Regions from separate parts of the Homo sapiens genome. Here region 1 is linked to region 2. Evidence: fine-mapped expression QTL. A gene starts in region 2. The other region holds a variant in brackets. All regions are shown on one strand. Distances are from middle to middle.

Region 1 (11,484 bases), 100 kb after region 2:
TTTTTTTTTTTTTTTTGAGACGGAGTCTCGCTCTGTCGCCCAGGCCGGACTGCGGACTGCAGTGGCGCAATCTCGGCTCACTGCAAGCTCCGCTTCCCGGGTTCACGCCATTCTCCTGCCTCAGCCTCCCGAGTAGCTGGGACTACAGGCGCCCGCCACCGCGCCCGGCTAATTTTTTGTATTTTTAGTAGAGACCGGGTTTCACCTTGCTGGCCAGGCTGGTCTCGAACTCCTGACCTCGTGATCTGCCTGCCTCGGCCTCCCAAAGTGCTGGGATTACAGGCGTGAGCCACCGCGCCCGGCCAGCAAAAAGAAATCTAACAGTAAATGCGATTTAATTATCATCCCCCCACTTCCAATGCTCAAGCCATCAGAGTATATCCCTAAGTTACCCTTCGTTGCTGCTGTCGTCTCTGTCAGTGACAGCTAATCCTTGACGGTTTTGGCTCCTGGTTCACTGTCACTCTTCCCAGCACTACTTCTATTGATTTCCTGGTGATTTCATTATTAATGAAGATGATGTGTGCAGTGTCCTGAAAAGAGTCTATCACTTGAGTGTGAGTTCTGGGGAAAGGGTGTTAGAGATTTGAGGAAAGAGAAAAACATGTAACATGTAACAAATTGTTTTCCTAAATGACAACTCAGAACAATAGAAGGCATTAGAAGAGACCTTCCATATGCGCCCATCACATTCTTCAGCCTACCTATGTCTGCACCTTTGTGCTTTCAGTACTGAAGGTTGGATGAACCGTCTGTCCTCTTCTCTAAGGCTGGCTCCTCTACCTTTGTACCCTTTTTGCCTACCCAGCAATTCTCCCCTCTCTCCTGCATACCCTTTTACTGGGTTATTTCCACTAGCATACAAACCTTTACCTCCCACCTTAAAAAAAGTTTTCACTTTACCCCACATTGTTGTTCACCTACTGCCCCATTTTTCTGCTTCCCCTTATGGCAAAACTCCTCAAAGTTTCTTTTCTCCCATTCTCTGTTGAACCCAGTCTAGGTAGACTTCTCTCTCTTCCACTCCATTGAAATAGCCCTTGTCAAAGTCACCAGTTACTTTCACATTGTTAAATCCAGTGGTCAGTTTTCAGCCCCCATCTTACTTGACCTACCAGCAGCATTTAACAGAGTTGATCACTCCTTTTCTTCCCTTGGTTCTAATGCTCTCTTGGGTTCCCTGCCACCTCACTGACTGTTCCTTTTTTTCTTTATTGCTGGATTTTCATCCTCTTTCTAGCCTTCAGATGTTAACATGTCCAGGGTTCAGTCCTCAAGAAGAGTTCTAAGTGTTTTTGAAACAGGGTCTCATGCTGTCACCCAGGCTGGAATACAGTGGCACAATCATGTCTCACTGCAGCCTCAACCTCCTGGGCTCAAGCAATCCTCCCATCTCAGCCCCCCCAAGTAGCTGGGACTACAGGCATGTGCCACCACACCCAGCTAATTTTTATTTTTTTATTTCTAGTAGAGACAAGGTCTTGCTACGTTGCCCAGGCTGGTCTTAAACTCCTCGGCTCAAGTGATCCTTCCACCTCAGCCTCCCAAAGTGCCGGGATAACAGGCGTGAGCCACTGTGCTCAGACTTTTTTTTTTAGTTTTTATAGAGACAAGGTCTTGCTATGTTGCCCAGGCTGGTCATGGACTCCTGGGTTCAAGTAATCCTCCCATCTCAGCCTGCCAAAGTGGGGATTACAGGCATGAGCCTGGCCTTCTTCCTCATTTTATTAAATGGCAATTCTTTTCTTCCAGTTACTCAACCAAAATTCTGGTTTTTCTTTACTCCACAGGCCCTCTTCAATGCCATCATCCCAGATCACCATGCAGAAGCCTTCTCTCCTCCTCGCCTGGCCCCCTCAGGCTTTGTGGACCAACTCGTGGAAGGTCTTCTGGGCGGCCTGTCTCACTGGGATGCTGAACACTTCTTGTTCATTGCTGAGCATGGCTACCTGTATGAGCACAACTTTGCCTTCTTTCCTGGTTTCCCCTTGGCCCTGCTGGTGGGGACTGAACTGTTGAGACCCTTACGGGGGTTACTGAGTCTACGCAGTTGCCTGCTGATTTCGGTAGCATCACTCAATTTCTTGTTCTTCATGTTGGCTGCAGTTGCACTTCATGACCTGGGTTGTCTGGTTTTGCACTGTCCCCACCAGTCCTTTTATGCAGCTCTGCTTTTCTGTCTCAGCCCTGCCAATGTCTTCCTGGCAGCTGGTTACTCAGAAGCTTTGTTTGCCCTCCTGACATTCAGTGCCATGGGGCAGCTGGAGAGGGGCCGAGTCTGGACTAGTGTACTCCTCTTTGCCTTTGCCACTGGGGTACGCTCCAACGGGCTGGTCAGTGTTGGCTTCCTCATGCATTCTCAATGCCAAGGCTTTTTCTCTTCTCTAACGATGCTGAATCCTCTGAGACAGCTCTTTAAGCTGATGGCCTCTCTGTTTCTGTCGGTGTTCACACTTGGCCTTCCCTTTGCCCTCTTTCAGTATTATGCCTACACCCAATTCTGTCTGCCAGGCTCAGCCCGCCCCATTCCTGAGCCTTTGGTACAGTTAGCTGTAGACAAGGGCTACCGGATTGCAGAGGGAAATGAACCGCCTTGGTGCTTCTGGGATGTTCCACTAATATACAGCTATATCCAGGATGTCTACTGGAATGTTGGCTTTTTGAAATACTATGAGCTCAAGCAGGTGCCCAATTTTCTACTGGCTGCACCAGTGGCTATACTGGTTGCCTGGGCAACTTGGACATACGTGACCACTCACCCTTGGCTCTGCCTTACACTTGGGCTGCAAAGGAGCAAGAACAATAAGACCCTAGAGAAGCCCGATCTTGGATTCCTCAGTCCTCAGGTGTTTGTGTACGTGGTCCACGCTGCAGTGCTGCTGCTGTTTGGAGGTCTGTGCATGCATGTTCAGGTGAGGTGGATTCCTGACTGGGATAAGGATGTGAATACAGGCAAAACCCCTTGGCCAAGGACAGGGAAGGCAGCTAACATCTCCCGTTTGAGTGATCCATACTGAATTTATTCATTCAATGACTATTTAGGGTTATTCTTTATGCCAGACTCTGGGTCAGACCTCTAAGGATGAAACATAAATAAGACAAAATTGCGGCCAGGCGCGGTGGCTCACACCCATAATCCCAGCAATTTGGGAGGCTGAGGTGGGTGGATCACAAGGTCAGGGGTTCAAGACCAGCGTGGCCAAGATGTTGAAACCTTGTCTCTACTGAAAATACAAAAATTAGCCGGGCGTGGTGGCAGGCACCTGTAATCCCAGCTACTCAGAAGGCTGAGGCAGAAAATTGCTTGAACCCGGGAGGTGGAGGTTGCAGTGAGCTGACATTGCACCACTGCACTCCAGCCTGGGCGACAGAGTGAGACTCTATCT[CAAAAAA/C]AAAAAAAAAAAAAAAAAAAATTACTGCCTTGGGGGGTCTCATGGTATAAATAGGAGGACAGACATTTGACATAAATTATAGTACAGTGGGATAGAAAAGGGAGTGCTATTTTGAGATTTATTTTATTTTACTTTATTTATTTATTTATTTATTTATTTTTTTAGATGGAGTCTCGCTCTGTTGCCCAGGCTGGAGTGCAGTGGTGCGATCTCAGCTCACTGCAACCTGTGTCTCCTGGGTTCAAGCGACTCTTCTGCCTCAATCTCCCGAGTAGCTGGAATTCCAGGCGCCTGCCACCACCGCCTAGCTAATTTTTGTATTTTTAGTAGAGATGGGGTTTCACCACGTTGGCCAGGCTGGTCTCGAAATCCTGACCTCAAGTGATCTGCCCGCCTCATCCTCCTAAAGTGCTGGGATTACAGGCGTGAGCTACCACGCTCGGCCTGAGATTTTTTTTTTTTTTTTTTTTTTGAGACGGAGTCTTGCTCTGTCACCCAGGCTGGAATGCAGTGGCATGATCTCAGCTCACTGCAAGCTCCACCTCCCAGGTTCACGCCATTCTCCTGCCTCAGCCTCCCGAGTAGCTGGGACTACAGGCACCTGCCACCATGCCTGGCTAATTTTTTGTATTTTTAGTAGAGACGGGATTTCACCGTGTGAGCCAGGATGGTCTGGATCTCCTGACCTCGTGATCCACCCGCCTTGGCCTCCCAAAGTGTTGGGATTATAGGCACGAGCCACTGCGCCCAGCAAGATTTTTTTTTTTAAAGCTCAGATAAAGTATTATGGAGGCGAAGAAGTAGGTAACTCACTGGAGTACTTGAGAAAGGCATCATATTTCAGCTGGGTCCTGAAGAATGAGATTTTCCATATAAGAAGCAGAGGAGGAACATTCTAGGTAAAAGGAAGGGCATATGCAAAAACACGAGGGTTGTGAAAGGACCTGATTGGACTGAGATACAGGAATAAGCACGGAGGATATCTCTGGGATCTTTTTCCCTAATACACAGTTATAGTTATATCCATATTGGTTTCTTGACTGTTGACTTCAGGAGGTTCTCAACTCAGGCAGGCCCCCAATTTCCAGAGGAGATAACCTTAACCAATGTTTTGGGTGGTGGCGGTGGTGATAGAGAGGGATGGGAAAGGTTTGATCTTATATCTGATTTTCTGTTCTTGGCTGTGGCCCCACCCTGGGGACATCTTTTTTCCCCATGCCGACCTCTTAGCAGTTTCTTCCTGTTGGAGTTGCACATTGGCTGTTTCTAAAATTCTCCAAGCTGTATGGATAAGAGACACAGAGGAAATAGAAAGTAGCATTCCGTGTTTTTAGCTAGATTAAATCGTAGAATGTGTGCCAGCAAAGCTTAAAGTTTCCAGGTTAGCTGAGGGAGGCCATTTGGAAACTTGTGTCTGAACTCCAATAGGAGAGAGAATGTTCAAGCAATGGGTCTTCTGCCCATTTCCCTCTGCTTTGCCATCCCATGGGATAAGGGAACCACCTCAGGTTCCCAATCCCCAAATCAATATCACAGAGTTTAGAGTCCAGGCCCTCGGCTAAAATTAGACCCCATAGAGTTTCTAGTATTAATTGGCCCATTATTTTAATAGTAATTAATGTAATTAGTCTGTAGCTATGTTTATTTGTAATATGGAGGATGCCTGTCTGCTGTACATACATCTTTCTAAGACAGATCCTAAGCTGTGTTCAATTTCTTTTCCAGTGTAATACATTTCTAGTCACAGGACCATAGTTCACCCAGCAGTAGAGAAGTCCCCGGGCTGGTCCAATTTGAGTCAGTGACATTCCAGTAAATGTCTGGATATTCCCCTCTCATGATTTCTAGGTTCTCACCAGGTTTTTGGGCTCCTCCACTCCTATTATGTACTGGTTTCCAGCTCACTTGCTTCAGGATCAAGAGCCGCTGTTGAGATCCTTAAAGACTGTGCCTTGGAAGCCTCTTGCAGAGGACTCCCCACCAGGACAAAAGGTCCCCAGAAATCCTATCATGGGACTTTTGTATCACTGGAAAACCTGTTCTCCAGTCACACGATACATTCTAGGCTACTTCCTGACTTACTGGCTCCTGGGACTACTCCTACATTGCAACTTCCTGCCTTGGACATGACCTGGACTCTCCAGGGACAGGTTGGAAGCCAACTTAACCCAGGGGTCTGAAAGTAAAAATACACATTGGAACTGCCTCTGCTGCCCTGGGATCATTACTGTGTCCATTATAATCTTTCTCTTTCTCTTTGAAAGCTGGTCAGGAATGGGAGAAGTGTCAGACACTAGAGAGCCCCTTCTGGTCCTGGCTAGGGCAAATTTTAGACAACTATTTTCTCTGTAAGTGAAGATTGTCGTATTCCAAGTCTAAAATACACCTGGATCTGTCTAGTCAATCAACATAGCAGAGACAGTCTTAAACCTACCATTGACCTGTGTGTAAATTTAAATGTCAATTTATTGAAGTGTAAATTTCATCAAAGGCATTAGCTGACAGGCTGGTAACAGTCCACACAAGATGGTATAGGCCTGAACAGTGTAGTGGCAGTAATAAAGTGGGACCATTTTTTCCAAATGCGACATTGTTTCTGATGTTTTTTTTTATGATTTGTGCATGTATTTTTATATGAAAAAAACTTACAAAGATATGCAAATTAAACTTCTTTCAGTTATACATGCAATGAATTGCCTTTTTAAAAATAATACAGGCCAGGCACGACGTTTCACACTGTAATCCCAGCACTTTGTGATGCCGAGGTGGGCAGATCACTTGAGGCCAGGAGTTTGAGACCGGCCTGGCCAACATGGCAAAACCCCGTCTCTACTAAAAATACAAAAATTAGCCGTGCATGATGGTACACACCTGTAATCCTACTCGGGAGGCTGAGGCATGAGAATTGCTTGAACTTGGAAGGCGGAGGTTTCAGTGAGCTGAGTTTGCGCCACTGCGCTCCAGCCTGGGCAACAGAGTGAGGCTCTGTCTCAAAAAAAGTAAAAAATAAAAATAATACAAATCTTTCCATGTGGCAAAAAGTAAAATAATTTTAAAAAGTTAAAATAATATAAATCAGCTGGGGGAAAAAAGGGTAAGAAGAAGGCATCAGGAACCCTGGATTCTAGTCCTCTCAGTAAAACCCCATTTACCAGCCATGTGACTTGGGAGAGTTTTCAGAACCTTAGTTACCACCTCTGAAACCATGGGAAATGATGATATTCTTCAGGGGGTGGTGGTGAATGATGCAGTCTCTTGTAGGTCCCTTTCTGCTCTAACATCTTAAGAACTGCCTTAAACAACAGAATCACCCCAGTCTAAATGCTAATGTAGAGGCTTAAATGTGTGATTTTAGGAGAAAATATCCAGTTCTCCTGTTTTCAGCAATTAGAAGAAACTCCTCCTCCACCGAGTGCAACTCTTGGGAGTAATTTAGGTGGTCTTTCCTTTCAATGAGGGAAAGCAGTAACATCTGGCAGATAAGGTGCCTGTTGTGCCGTTCTCAGATGCCTGCTTACTTGATCAGTAGACATGGGTCAGAGGCGCCAACACGGCGGCAGGAATTGGTAAATTGTACGTAAGTCCAAGGTGGAATGAAATGGTATCTGCCCTGCTTCCTGGCCCCCGTTTGGTCATGAGCCTATCACTATAATGGTAGTAAGATCACTGGCCCCTGCTGAGCTACTTTTGCCCATTCCTTGAGCCAGACGAGAGTTTGGCTCTGTATCATCCATCACCTCTTTTATTTCCCATTTAAGCCAAAACATCCAGTAAGCAGAAACTCTTCAAAACAGATGGGTAATCATAAGCAGCTTCTGGAAAGCCTCAAGAATTGGAATTTTGACACACTCCCTCTGACCATGACAGAAAGCTCAACTTGCCAGCTGAAGGGAAGCTCCTGGCTGAGCCCCAGCACCCTCTGTTGGAGCTTCTGGTCAGCCTGGCCAATAAGCATTTCCCATCCATCGCCCCAGCACTAGGACAGCTGAGAGAATTTGGTTCAGAGTCAAATGCTTCTGAAAATGTACACACAGATCAGGGCAGCCCTCTGCCTTCTGCCAAGACACCAAGTGCCCTTCTTGGCAAACGATGATCACCCCTGCCCTAGTGTCCCTCCAGTTAGTTGGCAGAAACTGTTCCCTTTCTCCTTGCCAACAGCTGCAAATCCAGAGACTTCCACCTTGCGTGCAGGAAGTGTTGGGGTCCTGTTTCAGCTCTTTATTGCCGAGGTAGGAGCACTGGGTTCTTCGCTCTCCTCTTTGCCTCCTTTTGGGGGATAATCAGGACTGATTATTCCTCTACTGGAAGAGGTGACTCAGACCCCACAGAGTAGGTGTGATGTCACTGCTCTGGCAGTCTCAGTTTAACCTTCACACTAGATCTCATCATGCCCAGAAACCTTGTAACAGGAGCCCAGCTAGGTGGGTGCACCTGGCATGAGCTGGACAAGGTTTTCTCTCTGACCTTGCAGGGATTTAGTTGTTCTCTAAGGAGCTAAGGAATGGGCTGATTTTATGACCAGCAGCTGTCCTTTTACCATCCTATTAACAGTCTCTTTAATAGTCTGGGAGAGGGACATGAAGGACCCAAGGCAGGAAGTTTCCTGTTTACCCTGAGGCCTAACAATGCCACAGCTAGGTGGGGTGTCTACAGTTTCAGAGAAAAGTCATTTCCTTCTGAGACCCTGCTAAAACAGAAACCAGACGCCTCAGCCTCACGTACCTAGAAGTAGATGCTTTTTTTTGTTCTTTAATGAAGGTGGGAGGAGAGTGTTTGACATACCTTTACCAGTCCTCCTGGAAAAATGTTACTTTTATTGAATAGACCCTCTCACTGTCATCTGAAAATGTAATATGTGCAGGCTCAAGGGATTTGAAACTGATTGATTCTTTCAGTAATTGTTTATTAATGCCTATTTTAGGGGAATAAAGATGACTCAGCTATGCCTCCTGTCCTCAAATAACTGTCTAATAAGAGTTGCTAGCAGACACAGAAACATTAAGGCAGAAAGCAATAAATTCTGGGGAGTGAAAGGACACTGAAGCTTCTTGCTCTGTATCTCACTACTTGAACTTTTTTTTTTTTTTTTTTTTTTTTGAGACGGAGTCTTGCTCTGTCACCCAGGCTGGAGTGCAGTGGCGCGATCTCGGCTCACTGCAACCTCCGCCTCCCAGGTTCAAGCAATTATCCTGCCTCAGCCTCCCTAGTAGCTGGGATTACAGGTGCCCGCCACCACGCCCAGCTAATTTTTGTATTTTTTAGTAGAGACGGGGTTTCACCATGTTGGCCAGGCTGGTCTCGAACTCCTGACCTCGTGATCCACCCTCCTTGGGCTCCCAAAGTGCTGGGATTACAGGCATGAGCCACCGTGCCCAGCCCTACTTGAACTTTTTATGATTAGAATGAATTCAAGTTTTATTTGTGTGCTTAGAAAAAGGTAAGTGAGGCAGAGAGCATGTACTCTGTAAGTTTACACGAGATGGAGATCCCTTCCAGCTTGGGATACCTGAAAAGACTTCATGGACCAATGATAGTTGAGCTAGACTTTGAATGATAGGGAGGATTTGAAAGTTCAGGGTACAGAATGAATATAGAAGGCAGGAAATGGAACAGGATAGGACAGGGAGAAACCAGTGTGAATGGAGCTGAGGTCTTAATCTAGGCCTTGAAATCAGCCCCAAGCCCAGCTCTACTGTGTACTAACTGTGTAAACTTGAGCCAGATACTGACTCTCTAAGCCTCAGTTTACTCATCTGTAAAATGTAGATAATAATATCTAGCTCATAGATAAAAGAATAATAACATCTCATAGGGTGGTGGTGGGAATTAAATGTTACCATATGAAAAGTGTTGAGAACAGTGCTAACAAAGCAATAGCTGCATTTTGGACATGTTGGGTTTACGATACCAAGCAGCACATTTATGTGCCAGGAAATGTGGAACTGGAGACCAAGAGAGTGGTCAGGGAACCATGCACACAGACACGGTAATTACAGCAGCCATGCTGTTGGATGGGATTGTCAAAAAAAGAGTGTGGAGAGAGAAGAGAGAGGGGCTGTAAGAGTTTGGGTAGGTTGGCTGGGCGCGGTGGCTCACGCCTGTAATCCCAGCACTTTGAGAGGCAGAGGCAGGCGGATCACGAGGTCAGGAGATCGAGACCATCCTGGCTAACACAGTGAAACCCAGTCTCTACTAAAAATACAAAAAATTAGCCAGGTGTGGTGGCGGGCACCTGTAGTCCCAGCTACTCGGGAGGCTGAGGCAGGAGAATGACGTGAACCCAGGAGGCGGAGCTTGCAGTGAGCCGAGATTGTGCCACTGCACTCCAGCCTGGGCGACAGAGTGAGACTCTGTCTCAAAAAAAAAACAAAAAACAAAAAAGAGTTTGGGTAGGTGGCTCAACCTCTCTAAGCCTGTTTTCTCATCTACAGTGGGGGTGATAGCATCTACCACATGGGCAGTCATGAAGATAAAGCACTTAGCACAGTGCCTGTATGGCAAGAACTTCATGAATGGTAGCTATTGTATTATCATTATTATCATTAAAGGACCAGAAACAAATTGTATCATTGGCGGAAAAGAGAGTTTCAAGGCCAGGCACAGTGGCTCATGTCTGTAATCCTAGCACTTTGGGAGGCTGAGGTAGGTGGATCGCTTGAGCCCAGGAGTTTGAGACTAGCCTAGGCAACATGGTGAAACCCCATCTCTACAAAAAATACAAAAATTAGCCAGGTATCCTGGTGGGCGTCTGTAGTCTCAGCTACTCGGGAGACTGAGGTGGGAGGGTCACCTGATCCCAGGAGGTCAAGGCTGCAGTGAGCAGTGATCACACCACTGCACTCCAATGTGGGTGACAGTGAGACCCTGTCTCAAGAAAAAAGTTTCAAGAAGAAAGAAATGGTTAGCAGGGTCATATACTGTTAAGGAAAGGATGAGAAAAACTATTGAATTTAGGGATTAGGGATATTATCCAAGGTAGGCTAACGGCGATACCAAACAACCGCCAAAACTCAGTGGCTTAATAATAAAAGTTCCTTTCTTTTTTACTTCATAGTCTAGTGCAGGTTTAGGAAGGGAGGTCTGTTCCGCCCAATTATTGGGGACCCAGTCTTGTCCATTTTGTGACTGTCCTGCTCTAGCTCCTTAGAGTCCTCTACTCCCGGAAAAGTGTTTTTTTTTTTTTTTTTAAATTTAATTTTTTTTTTATTGATCATTCTTGGGTGTTTCTCACAGAGGGGGATTTGGCAGGGTCATAGGACACTAGTGGAGGGAAGGTCAGCAGACAAACAAGTGAACAAAGGTCTCTGGTTTTCCTAGGCAGAGTGTTTGTGTCCCTGGGTACTTGAGATTAGGGAGTGGTGATGACTCTTAACGAGCATGCTGCCTTCAAGCATCTGTTTAACAAAGCACATCTTGCACCGCCCTTAATCCATTTAACCCTGAGTGGACACAGCACATGTTTCAGAGAGCACAGGGTTGGGGGTAAGGTCATAGATCAACAGGATCCCAAGGCAGAAGAATTTTTCTTAGTACAGAACAAAATGAAAAGTCTCCCATGACTACTTCTTTCTACACAGACACGGCAACCATCCGATTTCTCAATCTTTTCCCCACCTTGCCCCCTTTTCTATTCCAGAAAACCGCCATCGTCATCATGGCCCATTCTCAATGAGCTGTTGGGTACACCTCCCAGACGGGGTGGTGGCCGGGCAGAGGGGCTCCTCACTTCCCAGTAGGGGCGGCCGGGCAGAGGCGCCCCTCAGCTCCCGGACTGGGTGGCTGGCCAGGCGGGGGGCTGACCCCCCCACCTCCCTCCCAGACGGGGCGGCTGGCCGGGAGGGGGCGCTGACCCCCCCCTCCACCTCCCTCCCGGACGGAGCGGCTGGCCCGGCGGGGGGCTGAGCCCCCCACCTCCCTCCTGGATGGGGCAGCTGGCCAGGCAGAGGGGCTCCTCACTTCCCAGTAGGGGCGGCCAGGCAGAGGCGCCCCTCACCTCCCGGACGGGGCGGCTGGCCGGGCGGGGGGCTGAGCCCCCCACCTCCCTCCCGGACGGGGCGGCTGGCCGGGCGGGGGGCTGACCCCCCCACCTCCC
Region 2 (15,653 bases):
CTGGATGTGGTGGCACATGCCTGTAGTCCCAGCTATTAGGGAGGCTGAAGCAGGAAAACCACCTGAGTCCAGGGAGGTCAAGGCTGCAGTAAGCCATGGTCACACCACTGAACTCCAGCCTGGGCAACAGAGTGAGACCCTGTCTCAAAAAATAAATAAAATAAAGTAAAATAAAATTCTACTGCCAAGTAGTAGCTAAATGTAATTCCCCCCCCCCGACCCCCCACCCAAGACAGAGTCTTGCCCTCGGGTGCAGTGGCACTATCTCAGCTCACTGCAACCTCTGCCTCCTGGGTTCAAGCAATTCTCCTGCCTCAGCCTCCCAAGCAGCTGGGATTACAGGCACCCGCCACCACGCCCAGCTAATTTTTCCATTTTTAGTAGACAGGGCTTCACCATGTTGACTGAGCTGGTCTCAAACTCCTGACCTCAGGTGATCCGCCCGCCTTGGCCTCCCGAAGTGCTGAGATTACAGGTGTAAGCCACAGTGCCCGGCGCTAAATGTAATTTCTATAGCATTAATAAGTATTCCAGGAGGTAGTTAAATCAAGGAACAAGGTACTTAATGAAGTTTTAAAATACAGCTTTGGAATGGTTATTATTAGCAATCATCATACTGTTAATTTCTAGTTGAAAGAATAACAGGCTCACAAAAATTTCTAAGTCTTAGGAGAAGACCGATTTTGGTGGAAAGTGGGTCAGAAGAGCATGTGCAACTCAAGGATTGCTGAGGATGAACAAGTGCATAGGGTAAAGTTGCTTCATCATGAAAGGTGAGTATTTAGGGTAGAGACTGCGGTCTTGGTCTACATTACTTGGTTGAGATTATAAAATGGTTTCTGTCGACCCTCTCTACAATCAGTGACAAATTGTACTAATAATGATGGACTCCTAAAAACCCTCAGTAGCCAATCAGGTTGCAACCTCCTTCACCTTGAAGCTTTTTCCTAGAGAATATTTTCTTTCCGAAGGTTGTGTGGTACTTCCACTCTCCTTGATTCCACCTTGGAAACACTGGCTACTACTTCATAAAGAACTGGAAGGTAGGTGTGGTGGAGTCAACTAGAATCCCTCTTTTCTAAACCCTTTGGACTTCCAACTTTATCTGGGCTAAAGGGGCAAACACGTTAGCCACAAACTCGGGTTTTTGTTAGACAGAGTATCCATATTTTATTTATTTATTTATTTATTTAATTTTTTGAGACGGAGTCTCGCTCTGTCACCCAGGCTCGAGTGCAGCGGCGTGATCTCGGCTCACTGCAAGCTCTGCCTCCCGGGTTCACGCCATTCTCCAGCCTCAGCCTCCTGAGTAGCTAGGACTACAGGCGGCCGCCACCACGCCCAGCTAATTAGAGTATCCATATTTTTAAGTAGCTGTGAGTGATTAGGAGAAAAATACTTCAATGAGCTCTTGGGCTTTGTTCTGAAGTCGAAAGGGCCTAGTAAAAATGTGTAATCTCCATCCTGGTTTTGGTGTTTGGGGCAAAAATAGTGCCTAATGTTGCACAACACTGTGTGCTCTTGAGTGTAGTTTGCGGATGAGTTATATTAATGAATACACATTGTGATAGAGGTGTGTGTGTGTGTTTCCGTGCTTTTTTTTTTTTTTTTTTTTTTGGAGACGGAGTCTCATTCTGTTGCCCAGGCTGGAGTGCAGTGGCACAATCTCGGCTCACTGCAACCTCTGCCTCCTGAGTTCAAGCGATTTTCTCCTGCCTCAGCCTCCTGAGTAGCTGGGATTATAGGTGCCTGCCACCATGCGCAGCTAATTTTTGTGCTTTTAGTAGAGACGGTGTTTCACTATGTTGGCCAGGCTGGTCTCGAACTCCTGACCTCAAGTGATCTGCCAGCCTCGGCCTCCCGTATTGTTTTTAAATGGCTTGTTGGATAGGCTTGATGAAGTGTGCTGGATTATTTCCTCCATTGTCTCCTGTTCTCTCCCTCCCACAGCAAGACTAGAAGAGCAACAACACACTTCTATACAGGTCTCTAGTAGTCTCTTTGGAGGGGTAGGCCAATAAGAACCAACCTGCTGGTCCCTACCCCCAACCCCTCTGGTGACTTCTGAATCCAGTTTCAATATTGTTAAATTTCAGGGAAGAAAGTGATAATGTGGAAAAGTGCCAAAACTCAGTCTGATTTTTCCTGGCAGCTTTCCCTTGGTGTCATTGGTAAGTTCCGCATTTCACTGGAGTGGAGTGCCACACTGCTACTATGACTATAGTAGTCACTCCCACGCCTGACTTTTTTGTTTGGTCCATTTTATCTTTAGGAATAGGCATTTTCTGTAGGGATAGATGGGTTTAAACCCTATTAAAGCTAGTCAGAATGTTTTTCATTAGGGGCCACTCAATTCCTGTCTTATACCTAATAGATTTCTTTGGATTTTCTTTGATTCTTATACAAAAACACCCAGTATCATCATGCTGGAGGATTCTCTTAAGGTGGTTGCTTTGCAGAGAACAGACAGCACATTTGCTTTTTTAGCCACCTATCCTATTTCATAGGACTGCATGCCTGCCTCCCTCCATTTTGTCTGTGCTTACACTGTTTTTTCCTTCTCTTTCCAACTCTTCTACAGAACTTGTGTTGGAATAAAAGACTCCATTCCAGATCCATTCCAGAGTTGCTGTGAGAAACTTCCCCACTGACTCTTTTTCCTAACTCAGTAAAATGGCAGTGTAAGAAAGCTTTATGCAGGCAAGGGCTGAAAGAAATCTCCACCTAGAATACAGTGTTTGATTTTTCCTTCTGATTTTCTTGTCAACTCTCAAAAACTTCCCTTATAATCATTTTATATGTGTGAAATTTCCCTAGGTTGGTTTTAAAGAACAAAACAAAACAAAAGCAACCTACATTGGTTTAACATGGGAAATCCTAGATAACAGACTTTTCCTGTTCCTGGGCAATAGCCTTCTGTGCTAAGATTGGTGACCTTACCTTGGTAATATTGTTGGTGCTTAGCCTTCCAGATCTAAAAACAGCTTAGTGTAATAAGTACCAAGCACAAAATTGTTAAGTTTCTCTTTTGATTGACTATGAAGAGGCTATCAAGCTTTTTTTTGTTTTGTTTTGTTTTTTGTTTTTTGAGACGGAGTCTCCCTTTGTTGCCCAGGCTGGAGTGCAGTGGCGACATCTCAGCTCACTGCAACCTCCGCCTCCCCGGTTCAACCGATTCTCCTGCCTTAGCCTCCCGAGTGGCTGGGATTACAGGCGGGTGCCACCACGCCCAGCTAATTTTTTGTATTTTCAGTAGAAACGGGGTTTCACCGTGTTAGCAAGGATGGTCTCGATCTCCTGACCTCGTGATCTGCCTGCCTCGGCCTCCCAAAGTGCTGGGATTACAGGCGTGCGCCACCACGCGCGGCTCAAGCTTTAAGTAGGTTTTTCATACAGTATTTTTTGTATTAGTTGGTGAATACAAATCTTCAATGAGCTCAGCAGAAATAAGAAATCCAAATTTCCTGATCTGCCCAGTGGTTTTATGAAACCCCAGTCCCGTTTTTTTGTTTTTTGTTTTTTTAAAAAATATTAGTAGTAGCTTTACTCAGTCTTTTCCACAAAAATAAGCTCACTGGTCAGCAAGCTCACCAGTGAGACTGGTGAGTGAGGCTGTACTTAGAAGAATATGAAAGCCTTGGTATCTTTTTCCTCATATTAGACTGGCCCTGGGTGTTATTTTTGTTTGAAACCTGCCACAAGCCAGACCAGCCTGGACTTTTACTTATTTTATTTTTTATTTCAGTTTTGGTGGAGGTGGTGGTGAGGGTAATTTTTAATTTATATTGAGACAAAATAAGCTGGCTGACTTATGCCTGAGGCTCTTTTTTTCACAGCTACTTTGGGGAAAAAAAGTCTCATTCAGAAATTAACATTTCTCAAAATGTGTTCCTTATTCTGAAATATAAATGACCCCAAATTGCTTAAGAGTTTGAGATGAGTGGGGAAAAGATCTAGAAAAGCATTTATTGTGTGCCAACCAAGTTTGAGGCCTCCTGGTTTGCTCCTTTGGGATTCTAGATCCTTGGCAGTCACAGTTTTACCGCGAAGAGCTGTTGAATGCCATTCCGAGTTCATTCCATTTTTCTCCGTGTGTGCATCCAGTTCGTATTTTACAGCTCCCGTATGGGAGCCGGTAACATAATGAATTGCCTTGACTCTCGCTTCAATCCACTTTCCTCGCTTAATATGCAGCCCAAAGTTTTGCAGCTCGCTGTCAGATGGTAGTGCTAGACTTTCACACCGATCCCAAAGCCTCCGCTGGGGCTGTTTCTTAACACGGAGTTACAAACTTTAAGAACAGACAGCTCCAGACGGAAATCCACGCCAGGCTTTGAACTCTGCTTCTGGCTTCCGTCAACTGACATAGTTGCCCTTTTGCTCAAACTCGCAGCTCCAGTTCGCACTCGAGAGAGCTCTGCTGGGTGTCTGCTGCTGTTCCGCGGCGGGAACGTGTGGGGGCAACAACCTGGCGCTCCAGCGATTCTCCACGCCTTAGTTAGGAATCTAAGCAAACCCTCGCTAGGGTCCCTGGGCTTAAGACGACTTCTCCCACAAGGATTGGGTGGAGGAAGGAGCCGAGCCCGATCTTCTGTTTGTTTGTTGAGTTTTGTATTTCAGACATTTAGGGGAAGCAAATTGCGAGAAAGGAAGGGCTGTCTTCCCTGCAAACGTTTCCCTCTCCTAGCAAACCCTCCAGGCCTCGGTTCCACATTTTGCAGTTGACTCTCTGGATTTTAATAGGTTGTTCCCTTGTCCTCGGGCCCAATCCATGCACGCTGTGCAGCCGGATAAAATGGGAGCACATCCTCTGCCATTTTCAGCCGGTTTGTCCTGGCAGCCCTGCCCCCTTCCTTGGCTGCTCTGCCGCTGGAGTTAATACGCCCAGAAACTCCGCCTGATCCTCCAGGCCTCAAATCCAGTCCGCGTTTGCTAAGTGCCGTGCGGTCGGGGACGGCGATAAGAACTCTCCTGTGAGGGAGAGCTAGCGAGACTTTAGTCCGGTTTCCATGTCAACGATTCAGTCCATATTTGCCATCAGGCTGTTGGCCGAGGTGCTTTCGCGAGGGTAGCGCTGTCCTAGTCCTAGTTCTCCAATCTGCGCCGGGATTCCTGAGCTGCCTGGGTGTGGGGTTAAAAGGCAGGGGCCGTGGGGGAAAAAACTCCACCGAAGGGAGGACCCACTGCCCCCAGCCGGGGTCTCGCTGCTCGGGCCAGCCACGTGCCCAGCTCCTCCCCTCCCCCGCTTTCCCGTTGCCACTGCCCCTAGGGAAAGCTGATGGGCCAGTTTCTAAAAAAGTTCCCTCAGCCCAACATTTCCTGGGATCGTGGTGTGGGGCTCTAAAAGTAAAAGTGGAAGAGAACCCTAGTGAATTAAAAAAAAAAAAAAGTAGAGAAATTCCACATTATCTCCTCCAACCCAGGTGGATAGATTTTTGTGCACTTTACCTTATTGCTAGAGAAAAATGGTGACTGTTTTCAAAACAGCTTGCCCACGTGTAGGGAAGGAGATTTTTGGCGCTTTCCATATTTCACAGCCATTGAAGAAAGGGGATGAGGGCTTTCTTTGGAGAGAAATCCATTCTAGCTTCCAGATTTTCACTGGGCTCCAGGTTTCCCATTACACCCCAGCTCTAAGGAAAATGGCAGAGTAATGGCATGTAAAAAAATCCTCATTTGTGTGCAGGACTCAGGACTGTTTGCCAGCTCAGGGGCAGTTGATTAAATAGCCAAGCTCTATTTATGAGGCAGCCTATAATTTGGTTTCTAGGACCTAATGCACCGGGGAGAGTTGTTGCCCCTGAGGACTGTGAGTGAAAAGAGGGCACTGGCCCATACCAGTCAGTCGGATCTTCTTGGTAGGCTGGTTTGGTTCTTGGCTTGAGGCCGGGGGAGGGGAGAAGAATAAAACTGTGGGATTTTTTTTTTTTTTAAATCTCATCACTCTTAGATTAACAGGAAGGTTTTGCCTTTCTGGTGTAGGATGCAGTAAGTTTTCTTGGGGAGAGAAATGAGTTCAGGCTTTGGAATTATTCATAGTGACCAGGGACATTGCCAGCACTCCCGGGTCCTGCATAATCTAAGATAATGCTCCTGTGGCCATGAAGTCTCCCTTTACAAAATCTGAGGGGGAAAAGAGATCCTGGTGTCTAGGAACACTGGCCTGGGCCTTTCCCAAGGCAGCCTTGGGTCTGGTGAGGAGCTGGAATCCCCTCTGGCTTTTGTAGCCTGTCATATCAGAACATTCCAAGTCAGCCTGAGGAAGAAAAGGCTGCTGCTGGGATTTGGTGGGGCCTGTAGATCAGGAGAACACTGGAGCTTTCTGTGTATGTCGATCTTTTCAGATAAACCTGGCCTTCTACCCAACTCCAGCTCAATCGGGGTCTCTTAGAATGTAATGGTAAACTTTAAACAATCTTTACGCTACAGGATAGAAAACAAATCTGACAAGCATCCATTTTCTAAGTGACTTGTTGGACTGTGCCTTTTCTTCAAGGAGAAAATGGTTTCCATTTTCTGCATCTCTCTTCTGTAATGGTTTGAACACTCAGGTTCCTGCAGTCCCTGGAGCCTCTTCTGTGGGTTTTCAGTATTAGAAGGTACTGTCTTTGGAGACTGGGGCTACTTGTCATGGTAGGCTAAGTTTTCTTAAGAGGGAGTGAGAAACGGTGTTTAGGTTTTCCTGCTGGGTAACTGTTCTATGCTCCTAAAGCAACTTCAGTGGCCTCCATTTTAAGTTAGTGGTGAGATGATCAGTTTTGACTTCAAATCCATTTTGATATTCTGATCCCATTGTTGAATGTGCTCACAACTTGATTTTTTTTTTTTTAAAGGCAAGTAGACCGAAGGCAGCTTTGGTGACTCCACTTCTTTTTAAAGTCACCCTCCTCTGCCCTCTGACTTTAAGTGACAGGCAGTTCCCTCCCCTCTCTTTCAATTCTGTAAAATGGGGATAATCCGGACCTCATGCCCCCAGAGCCTTGTAAGGACCGGCTAATGAGGGCAGGCGAGTGGGAAACGAATCGTCTGAACAATGATCAGTCATTCTTTCGGGCTTGCAAAGAGGGTAAAAAAGGTTGGGTCTTTAGCGGGGTCCGTAGAAGGCTTTGAAGACGAAAAGTGCTGTAGAGGTGCTAAGCAGCAGCCAACGGACCGGGCCCGCTGCCAGGGGGTCAGGGCTGGGCCGAGGCGGCCGCGGTCTCAGGCTCTGGCCAATTTTGCAGCCGCGGGTAAAGTTCACGCTGCCCGCTCCCCTCGGTACGGCCGGGAGGGGACAGACCTGGATAGGGACGCCGGGAGGGAGGCGGCGCAGGCTCCAGAGATGCGCGGGCTCCGGGCCGGGTTTTCTCCGAAGCCTTCGGCGGCGGCGCTGCCTAGCGAAAGCGGCTGAGGGCCTGCCGCCGCCGCGGCTTGTTCTCTCCCCTCCTCCTTTGTGAAGGGAAGGGAGCGAGTCCGTTCCACGGCCTGCGCCCGCTCCGCTCTCCACTCCGGGTTTGCCAGGCGGCCGCGACGGCGCTGGGTAAAATGGCAGTGCTGAGCCTCGTGTCGGAGTGAGGGGGACTCGGAGGAGAGTGGGGCGCTCTAGCCGCTCAGTCCGGCCGACCGCTTGCTCGCCCGCCCGCTGCCGCGCAGCAGCCTCGACCCAAGCCGCAGCTGGCGAGGGGAGGCAGGGCGCCGGGCTCGGCCCGCGCTCTGACTCTGGCTCCCGGCGCCCCGGCTGCTGCCGCGCGCCCTCCAGCCCGCCCGTCCCGGGTCCCCCTCCCCCCGCTCCCTCCCTCCCTCCCCGCCCCCTCCCCCTCGCCTCCCTCCCTCCCTCCCTCCTCCTTTCTCCGGCAGCAGAAAGCGGAGAGTCACAGCGGGGCCAGGCCCTGGGGAGCGGAGCCTCCACCGCCCCCCTCATTCCCAGGCAAGGGCTTGGGGGGAATGAGCCGGGAGAGCCGGGTCCCGAGCCTACAGAGCCGGGAGCAGCTGAGCCGCCGGCGCCTCGGCCGCCGCCGCCGCCTCCTCCTCCTCCGCCGCCGCCAGCCCGGAGCCTGAGCCGGCGGGGCGGGGGGGAGAGGAGCGAGCGCAGCGCAGCAGCGGAGCCCCGCGAGGCCCGCCCGGGCGGGTGGGGAGGGCAGCCCGGGGGACTGGGCCCCGGGGCGGGGTGGGAGGGGGGGAGAAGACGAAGACAGGGCCGGGTCTCTCCGCGGACGAGACAGCGGGGATCATGGCCGCGCAGGTCGCCCCCGCCGCCGCCAGCAGCCTGGGCAACCCGCCGCCGCCGCCGCCCTCGGAGCTGAAGAAAGCCGAGCAGCAGCAGCGGGAGGAGGCGGGGGGCGAGGCGGCGGCGGCGGCAGCGGCCGAGCGCGGGGAAATGAAGGCAGCCGCCGGGCAGGAAAGCGAGGGCCCCGCCGTGGGGCCGCCGCAGCCGCTGGGAAAGGAGCTGCAGGACGGGGCCGAGAGCAATGGGGGTGGCGGCGGCGGCGGAGCCGGCAGCGGCGGCGGGCCCGGCGCGGAGCCGGACCTGAAGAACTCGAACGGGAACGCGGGCCCTAGGCCCGCCCTGAACAATAACCTCACGGAGCCGCCCGGCGGCGGCGGTGGCGGCAGCAGCGATGGGGTGGGGGCGCCTCCTCACTCAGCCGCGGCCGCCTTGCCGCCCCCAGCCTACGGCTTCGGGCAACCCTACGGCCGGAGCCCGTCTGCCGTCGCCGCCGCCGCGGCCGCCGTCTTCCACCAACAACATGGCGGACAACAAAGCCCTGGCCTGGCAGCGCTGCAGAGCGGCGGCGGCGGGGGCCTGGAGCCCTACGCGGGGCCCCAGCAGAACTCTCACGACCACGGCTTCCCCAACCACCAGTACAACTCCTACTACCCCAACCGCAGCGCCTACCCCCCGCCCGCCCCGGCCTACGCGCTGAGCTCCCCGAGAGGTGGCACTCCGGGCTCCGGCGCGGCGGCGGCTGCCGGCTCCAAGCCGCCTCCCTCCTCCAGCGCCTCCGCCTCCTCGTCGTCTTCGTCCTTCGCTCAGCAGCGCTTCGGGGCCATGGGGGGAGGCGGCCCCTCCGCGGCCGGCGGGGGAACTCCCCAGCCCACCGCCACCCCCACCCTCAACCAACTGCTCACGTCGCCCAGCTCGGCCCGGGGCTACCAGGGCTACCCCGGGGGCGACTACAGTGGCGGGCCCCAGGACGGGGGCGCCGGCAAGGGCCCGGCGGACATGGCCTCGCAGTGTTGGGGGGCTGCGGCGGCGGCAGCTGCGGCGGCGGCCGCCTCGGGAGGGGCCCAACAAAGGAGCCACCACGCGCCCATGAGCCCCGGGAGCAGCGGCGGCGGGGGGCAGCCGCTCGCCCGGACCCCTCAGGTACACAGCTGAGTGGGGAGGGGGCTGGGGCGAGCGTGGTCCTGGGGGTGGGTGGCGGCTGCGGTGAGCGGGCCACAGCCTTGGGCTCCCCTCAGTCCCGGGCCCCCACTGCTGGGGAGCTGCCATTGTCTGGCTCTTCTCTCTTAAAATGGCTGCCTGTCTGCCTTCCTCTCCTTCCCTCCTTCAGCCTTTGTGTTGGGTTTTTCCAGAGGTGTCTGCTCCTCTTTTTCCTCTCCCCTGGTCCCTTCGAACTCCAGGGGTCTTGATGGGGGTGCGGGGCAGAGTGTGCGGGGAAGGGCCTGGCCGGGGGTGAGGGGGTGAGGGGGCGCTGGGGGCTCAGGTTAGGAGTGTAGGCAGTGGTAGGAGCCCAGGAGTTGAATGAACGTTTCTTTGCTCACCTGCCGCTCCTCTCCGTCCCCCGGCCTTCCTCTGGGCCGCCCCCCATCTGTGCTTTCAAAGAGGGCCCCTAGAGCTCGAGGGGACCTCGAGGGGAGGGCAGGGGACTGCTTGGGAGCTGCTAGAGGCCGGCTGCGGTTCACCTAGGGCAGCCCGGTCCATCTCCTGTCTTAGGCTCCGCCGGCCCAGTGGCCTGGGCTTCTCCCTGGAAGTGCTGGTAAACAGCTGAGTGATTGGAGTAGTAAGTGCAGATTGCTTTGGTTTGGGATTTGAATTATGGAGGTAAAATCCTTCTGTCAAAGCCAGGAGACAGTTGGTCTTAGGTTGACATCCTATCTGTGATCTGATTGGCTCCCCATCTCCTGCTCTTGGCCATTTATAATTGCCTCTGATGTAATGGTACAACAATCCTGATGAGCTCATAAACTTTTACACTCTGCTTTTCTGCCAGTGATAACCCAAACTATCGCTGCCACTATCTGCCTTTTATTCCAGAGCTGAAATTGGCTGTGACCTTGAGGAGGGAGGTTTAAGTAGCAATACTGTATCAGCAAGAGCAAAGCCTCAGACAGCCTGCCCTTGTTACATTGTGCCCAAACAAAAGAGGAGGCAATGGCATTTTGCTTGTACCTTGGATTTATTTTGCTTGTTATGTTTTATGCAGCCTGAAATGAATTCTGTGTTGTCAGAACAGTAGCTGAGTTTTTTCTCTACAATGGGTTTGCTGTTTGTTTTGGTTTTGTGACTTTCCTGATGGTATAAATGACTTCTTTGATGGCTCTGAAGATGCATTTATCTTGAGTAATTTTGACACTGGTTGCTTTGCAGAATTGAAATGATTTTACTGGGCTTTTTATTGAGTGGCAAATGTGGGATCTTTATGGGGGGCCAGAAAACAGTTTTTGTTATTTTTTTTAGAACTGGGAGCTTTCTGAGGAATTTTATATTAGGTTCAAGCGGTCTGTTTTAAGGAAGACTGGCCTCATTCTTTGTTTACATGTTGAATCTTGTTAACACTTTCTTTTGTTAATTGAACTTTGGAATAGCAGCTTAATTTAAAGGGAAGCTGGTGTCTTTCATGATCTTGAGGGACTTTCTCCTAAAGGCTTGGTTTGGTGAAATTGTTTTTTTCCTGGAATAACAAAAAGTCTAGTTTTCTGTTTTGTCATCAGTCATTTTAGAGCTTTGAAATAGAGACTGGCCAGTTTATTCCTTTGCATTTTAATGTATGTTCCACTTTTTTTCTTGTCTTCCAAGATATGAAGATACGACCTAGAATGACACTTAAGATTTGCTTAGAAATTGCAACTTCTGAGTACCTTGTTACACTATTCTATCTTGTTTTATTTTGTTGCTTTTCTTCCATCTTCATCATGCTCTGTCAGCAGTGCTTTTGGTCAGGGATATTGAGTATTCTGTGGAGTCATACATGTTTTCAAAGAGGGGGAAGCTCCATTCATCCCCTCCCAAACCCCTTGCGCTTTTGTGCTAGGAGGAAATTTTGTTCACTTACTAGCTGTATTCCCAGCCCATCCTAGAGCTACTTTACTACTCTTTTGAGCTGGGGATTTTGAAATTAGCTGTGTTAGATGGTGGGCTTGGAGCTCTGTGCCTTGATTCTACATCTTCCATGATGTTCTGCATCTGGACAAGAAATAGGGAAATGTTACATTGTTTTTCTAGTGTCTGGAGGAAAAGTTTTGTCTTAAAAGACAGCATCCTCTTGTCTCTGGGTCATCCTATAGTCTGAACCTCTTTCCTCTCATTCCCCTTGTTTTGTTTGGTTTTGGCTGAAAATTTTACTTTTCTTGAAAACTATTAGAATAAGTCATTTGGGGTAGTAAGTCAGGGTTCATTTAAAAGCAAAATTGATTGGAATTCTGCTGGTTTGGAAATATTTAGTCAAAGGTTTTAAAGAAAAAGCCAACTCTTTTGGTATAATGATTTTTGTTTTTCAGTCAGTAAATTATGGAACACTTTCTGTGTAGATGATAGGAGAATAGATACAGTCCCTGTTTGGATGCCTGTCTGTGCTGCCTTTGGATGAATTTTCTGATCTCTTTTATTATCACTAGACCCACACAACATAGATTCCTAATTAATTTCAGCTCAGTTGTCTACTCCCCAGAGACCCAGGGAATGGGCTGGTGAGCATTCAGTTGTGTAAGAGACAGTGCAGCTTCCACTTCTGTGGACTGCTTCAGGTGTGTGGTAGTAGTCTAGGTGAGGGTTGTAGGTTCAGACTTTGTTCTGAATTTCTCTTTGCTACTTGATAAACCTCTTTTCAGACCATGATGCTCTACTCTTCAACATTCTTAAATTAAAAAGTCTTGCTCTGTCTCCATCTTTTCCTGGCGCAGTCTTAGATTAAGAATATTTTGCAGAGACTTAATTAACACAGCTAAGGTGATAACGTTTTCATTTGACTCTGCGCTTATGAAATAAAGTTTAGGTAAGTGTGTGTATTGTGGCTATGTCTTTTTCACAGGACCTGGGAAGATCTTAGACAAACTTTTACTTTATTCCTTTTCATAAGTAGTGTATCTCAAGTGTTGAATCCCGGTACTGATGAAATAGTTTTAGATTACTTACACACATGAAGTTGATTTAAGGCTTTTTATTGGGACGCTTTTTAGCAATAATACTTTGAGAGTAATACCAGTTTACCAAGGTAAAAAATAAAATACAATAAATAGTCCAGGAACAAGTTGGATTTTATTGTAGAAGTTTGGTTGTTAGTTTCTACTACGGAAACATCAAATGATATTTCTGACTCCTGGGAAACAGATACAGGAATCCTAGATTTATTATGGGAATGCCTACTGGCAGAAATTCTAGGCTGGCTGAAATACAGGACTCTTGGAGCTCTCTCAAGTAGGAGGGACCAGGAAAACCACACTGAGATGGCACTTTAGTTGTGGGGGTTTCATGTTTCTCTACTGTTCATGAGAGAGCTGGGGTGATGAGGATTGAGATGGTGGTGTGAGAACAGAGAAAGCAGCCAGGACCAGGTTTGGCTTCTTGTGTATTGGGCCCTGTGAGGACTTTTTAGGTTCCTTTCTTTGTGTGTGACATGAGTAACCATGACAAGCAGCACCTGCTGAAACAGGATGTCTTGGATTGCATTAAACATTAATATGTTGGATTGACTCCTGTAGGTGTAATGTCTACAGTAGACCTTTTGCAAAGAGGTTAGTGAACTTTTTTAGAATGAGGGAATAGGCTAACAAAGTAATAGGCAGGGCTCTTTCCTGTTCCCATCCCTCAAAAGGTTGTATTGATTGGCTTCAACTCTCAAAATTCTAGAAGCAACTGAAGCTTGTAAATATGGTAAAAATGTGGTATTCAAATATATTGGCACCGAGTAGTTCTTTTCTGCCAGTGAGCTGTAATACCTGGGGCTTGAATGGAGTCCTGATTCCTGTGGCTTTTATCTCTGGGTTTTTCCTTGTTTAGATTGGTCATTATCATTACTGACGCACACTTACGTTGTTATTACTGATGCATACTTGAGTTGTGTGTTGCGTTAGTGGTAAAGAGCACAGGACTCACAACAGGAGGAGGAAGGAGGAGGCTTAGGTTCCACATACAGCTCCAGATTAAGCTGTGTGACCCTGGGCAGGTCATTTGCTTTCTCTATTTTTCATTTTCTCCCTCATCAATAAAATGAAGTTGGTCTGCATGGCCTTCTCACTCTAAGATGCTACATATCTGTGCTTCCATAGCTGGCTTGTTATGAAGGCAGCTTTCTGTACATAAATCAGGGGTCTTGAGACCATCTTTCTTCCCCTGGACTGAAGGAACTCAAAGCTATTTTCTCCTGGGATTCACAGGAACAAGCTCTGAACAGTTGGGTGCCATTGTGGTCTGTAGACTTTTACAGAAAAAGCTCTACCAGACTGTTGCCTTGAAACTGTTAATCTGTTTGTCATTAGTCATTCCACCTGGCTGGTGGTTTTAAAACACTAAATAGTCGTTGGAAAGTTAGGTAGATTTCATTAAAGCAAGACTTGAAAAATAGTTGCTTCAGGATCCCCAGGAGGCTTTTGCACTTGGGGTTGGGGTGAGGAATGGATATTCATAAGTTCAGTGTTGATATTCTGCTGCTTTTGGGGAGGGGTAGGGAGAGAGAGGGAGCATTAAGCTCTCCAGACTCCTGGTGTTTGGGCAGGTCTAGGTCTGGTTTGGGCAGTTGGTTGTAATCTGAGTGCCTGGACTTGCCCTGTAAGTTTTGCTGAGAGAGAAGCAAATGTTCCTGAGACTGGAAGAGGAAAAGCTGCGTTTCAGGGTCAATTTCATAGGTGCATTTGTTGTTTCTCATCGCTATGGTTTAAAAAACTACATGGTGTGCTTTGCACGTGGTCCTGGAAATGCTATTCTTTCTCTTCTCCAGCACACCTGAATTTCCATTCTTTCTCTTCCTGGCTTAGTAGTTTAGAAGTGTAATTTAGGTATATTAGAGGAAGGAAGCTTCCCTTTATAAAGGAGGGAAAAGGGTAGAGGGAACAGTGTTTGATAATTCTGTGCTTGACACAGCATCTTCTATCGTCTCTGAAGGAACCAAATGTTTCAGAGCTTTGTGTAAATACTTGCTGAGCTGTCAATATGTACCCAGGAGGTTTCTGTAGTAAGATGTAAACTGTTCTATAGAATGTTTGACAGGCAAATTAATAAACAGTTTTCAAGCAAAGATAATGCTAGCCTCCTCATGTGGTGGAGTAAAATAACATTGGGGAAAAAGACTTGGGGATAGGAAAAGGGTAGTGCTGGGGGGCAGTGAGTGTGGAGATAAGAAGTGATCTAAAAAAAAATTGAAATGGAAAGATGCTGCCCTGGTAGTGAAACCTCTGTGGCCCTGGCTGCGTGCTAAGTTCAGGGCATGTGGTATCCTGTTAAAGTCAATTGCAGTTTCATAGTGAAAATAGAAGTTTGGAAAGAAGATCCTGACTGTCAATAGTAAGGTAAGTATTACCCCAGACACTTGGCTTATGAGACTTTGAGGTTTAAAGGGTAGCTTGGTGAGATTATTTTTGGCTTGGGTTTGCATTTCTGGAATATTAGAAAGGAGAAAAAAGATACTGCAACTTGAGTGTGATCTTTATCCTCAATTTTGCTGTTGTGCTGGGGATTATAAGTCCACTACCCAATGGCCTGGGTTTATTTATACAGTTTTTACTGGACTTCTGTGTATCACTTATGATAAAATTAATATGCCTTTACACTCTGTTCCTGGGTCAGTACAAAGTCCAAATATTTGGGGACTCACTACATCTTACTTGAAGGATTATGTGAGTAGATACAGTCTTTGTTTTTGAAATTGCCATTTTAGGATTAAAAACATATCTGGGTTCCTTCAGTGACACATTCTTTTTATGGAAGAAGAAGAAGAATCTATGAATATTTTAGCTGTCTGTCTGTGGTCCTCTTCTTTGGTAGCCTTGTGAGATGACCAGATTTGCCTTCTCAGAATGTCTTTTTTAACTAGATTCATTGATTCTGACACCAGTTTTCTTTATAAGAAGTGTTTTTTACACCAGAGTCCTGGAAGTGCCCTTTTGACTTAGCTGTTTATATAGTAGCAGGGAATATGAATGTAATTATGGTCCTGACTATGATTTTTAGGTTCAGCTAACTTACTACCAAAGGCTATCAGCTTGTTTTAATACAAAACACAAAAACTTGGATTGGCACTGACATAGGTTGCTTAATATTGCATGGTCCTTTCCCAGTATGTTGGTAGTGAGGGTATTAGGAACTTCAGACTTATTGCTGAGAGCATAGTTTCTAAGTCAGAGAGATCAGGAAATTCCAATGGGGATGGGAAATAGCCCTATGTGATTACACCAGCTAGGTACTAGGAAGAGATTTAAAAGGTAGAAACAATATCTCCTTCAGAGGCATTTAGTTTTCT

Direction of the effects. Positions count from the first base shown, and alleles are read on the strand shown. Sizes are in standard deviations (SD) of each study's normalised expression.
In carriers of allele CAAAAAA in region 1, the expression in lymphoblastoid cells of the gene that starts at base 7,821 in region 2 tends to be lower than with C alone (large effect, 0.76 SD a copy in TwinsUK).

What was found. PIP is the estimated chance that this variant, and not a neighbour inherited with it, causes the effect. A credible set is the group of variants that fine-mapping cannot tell apart.
Region 1: its variant is the best candidate, but not a certain one, in a credible set for the expression of ARID1A in lymphoblastoid cells (TwinsUK, PIP 0.72).

The regions. Positions count from the first base shown.
Region 1 is chr1:26,792,323-26,803,806 of GRCh38, forward strand. It overlaps PIGV (phosphatidylinositol glycan anchor biosynthesis class V), which reads left to right. Exons shown (of 4, transcript NM_017837.4): 3 at 1,791-2,912; 4 at 5,241-8,337. The coding sequence ends at 5,522. Among named protein-coding and RNA genes, the nearest start is that of PIGV, 10 kb to the left of the region's middle. RefSeq lists an enhancer at 7,762-8,011. The variant CAAAAAA/C (reference allele first, on the strand shown) is at 3,387.
Region 2 is chr1:26,688,195-26,703,847 of GRCh38, forward strand. It overlaps ARID1A (AT-rich interaction domain 1A), which reads left to right and starts at 7,821. Exons shown (of 20, transcript NM_006015.6): 1 at 7,821-9,346. The coding sequence starts at 8,210. It overlaps LOC124900417 (translation initiation factor IF-2-like), which reads right to left and starts at 8,211. Exons shown (of 2, transcript XM_047439473.1): 1 at 8,023-8,211; 2 at 3,714-7,771. The coding sequence starts at 8,211. The coding sequence ends at 7,085. LOC101928728 (a long non-coding RNA gene) reads right to left here and starts at 5,937. Exons shown (of 1, transcript NR_135804.1): 1 at 3,716-5,937. LOC105376888 (a long non-coding RNA gene) reads left to right here and starts at 988. Exons shown (of 3, transcript XR_001737950.2): 1 at 988-1,043; 2 at 2,097-2,171; 3 at 2,582-2,618. RefSeq lists enhancers at 4,491-5,005, 4,722-4,821, 6,654-7,590, 7,591-8,526 and silencers at 7,505-7,834, 7,925-8,084, 8,455-8,784, 8,835-9,434.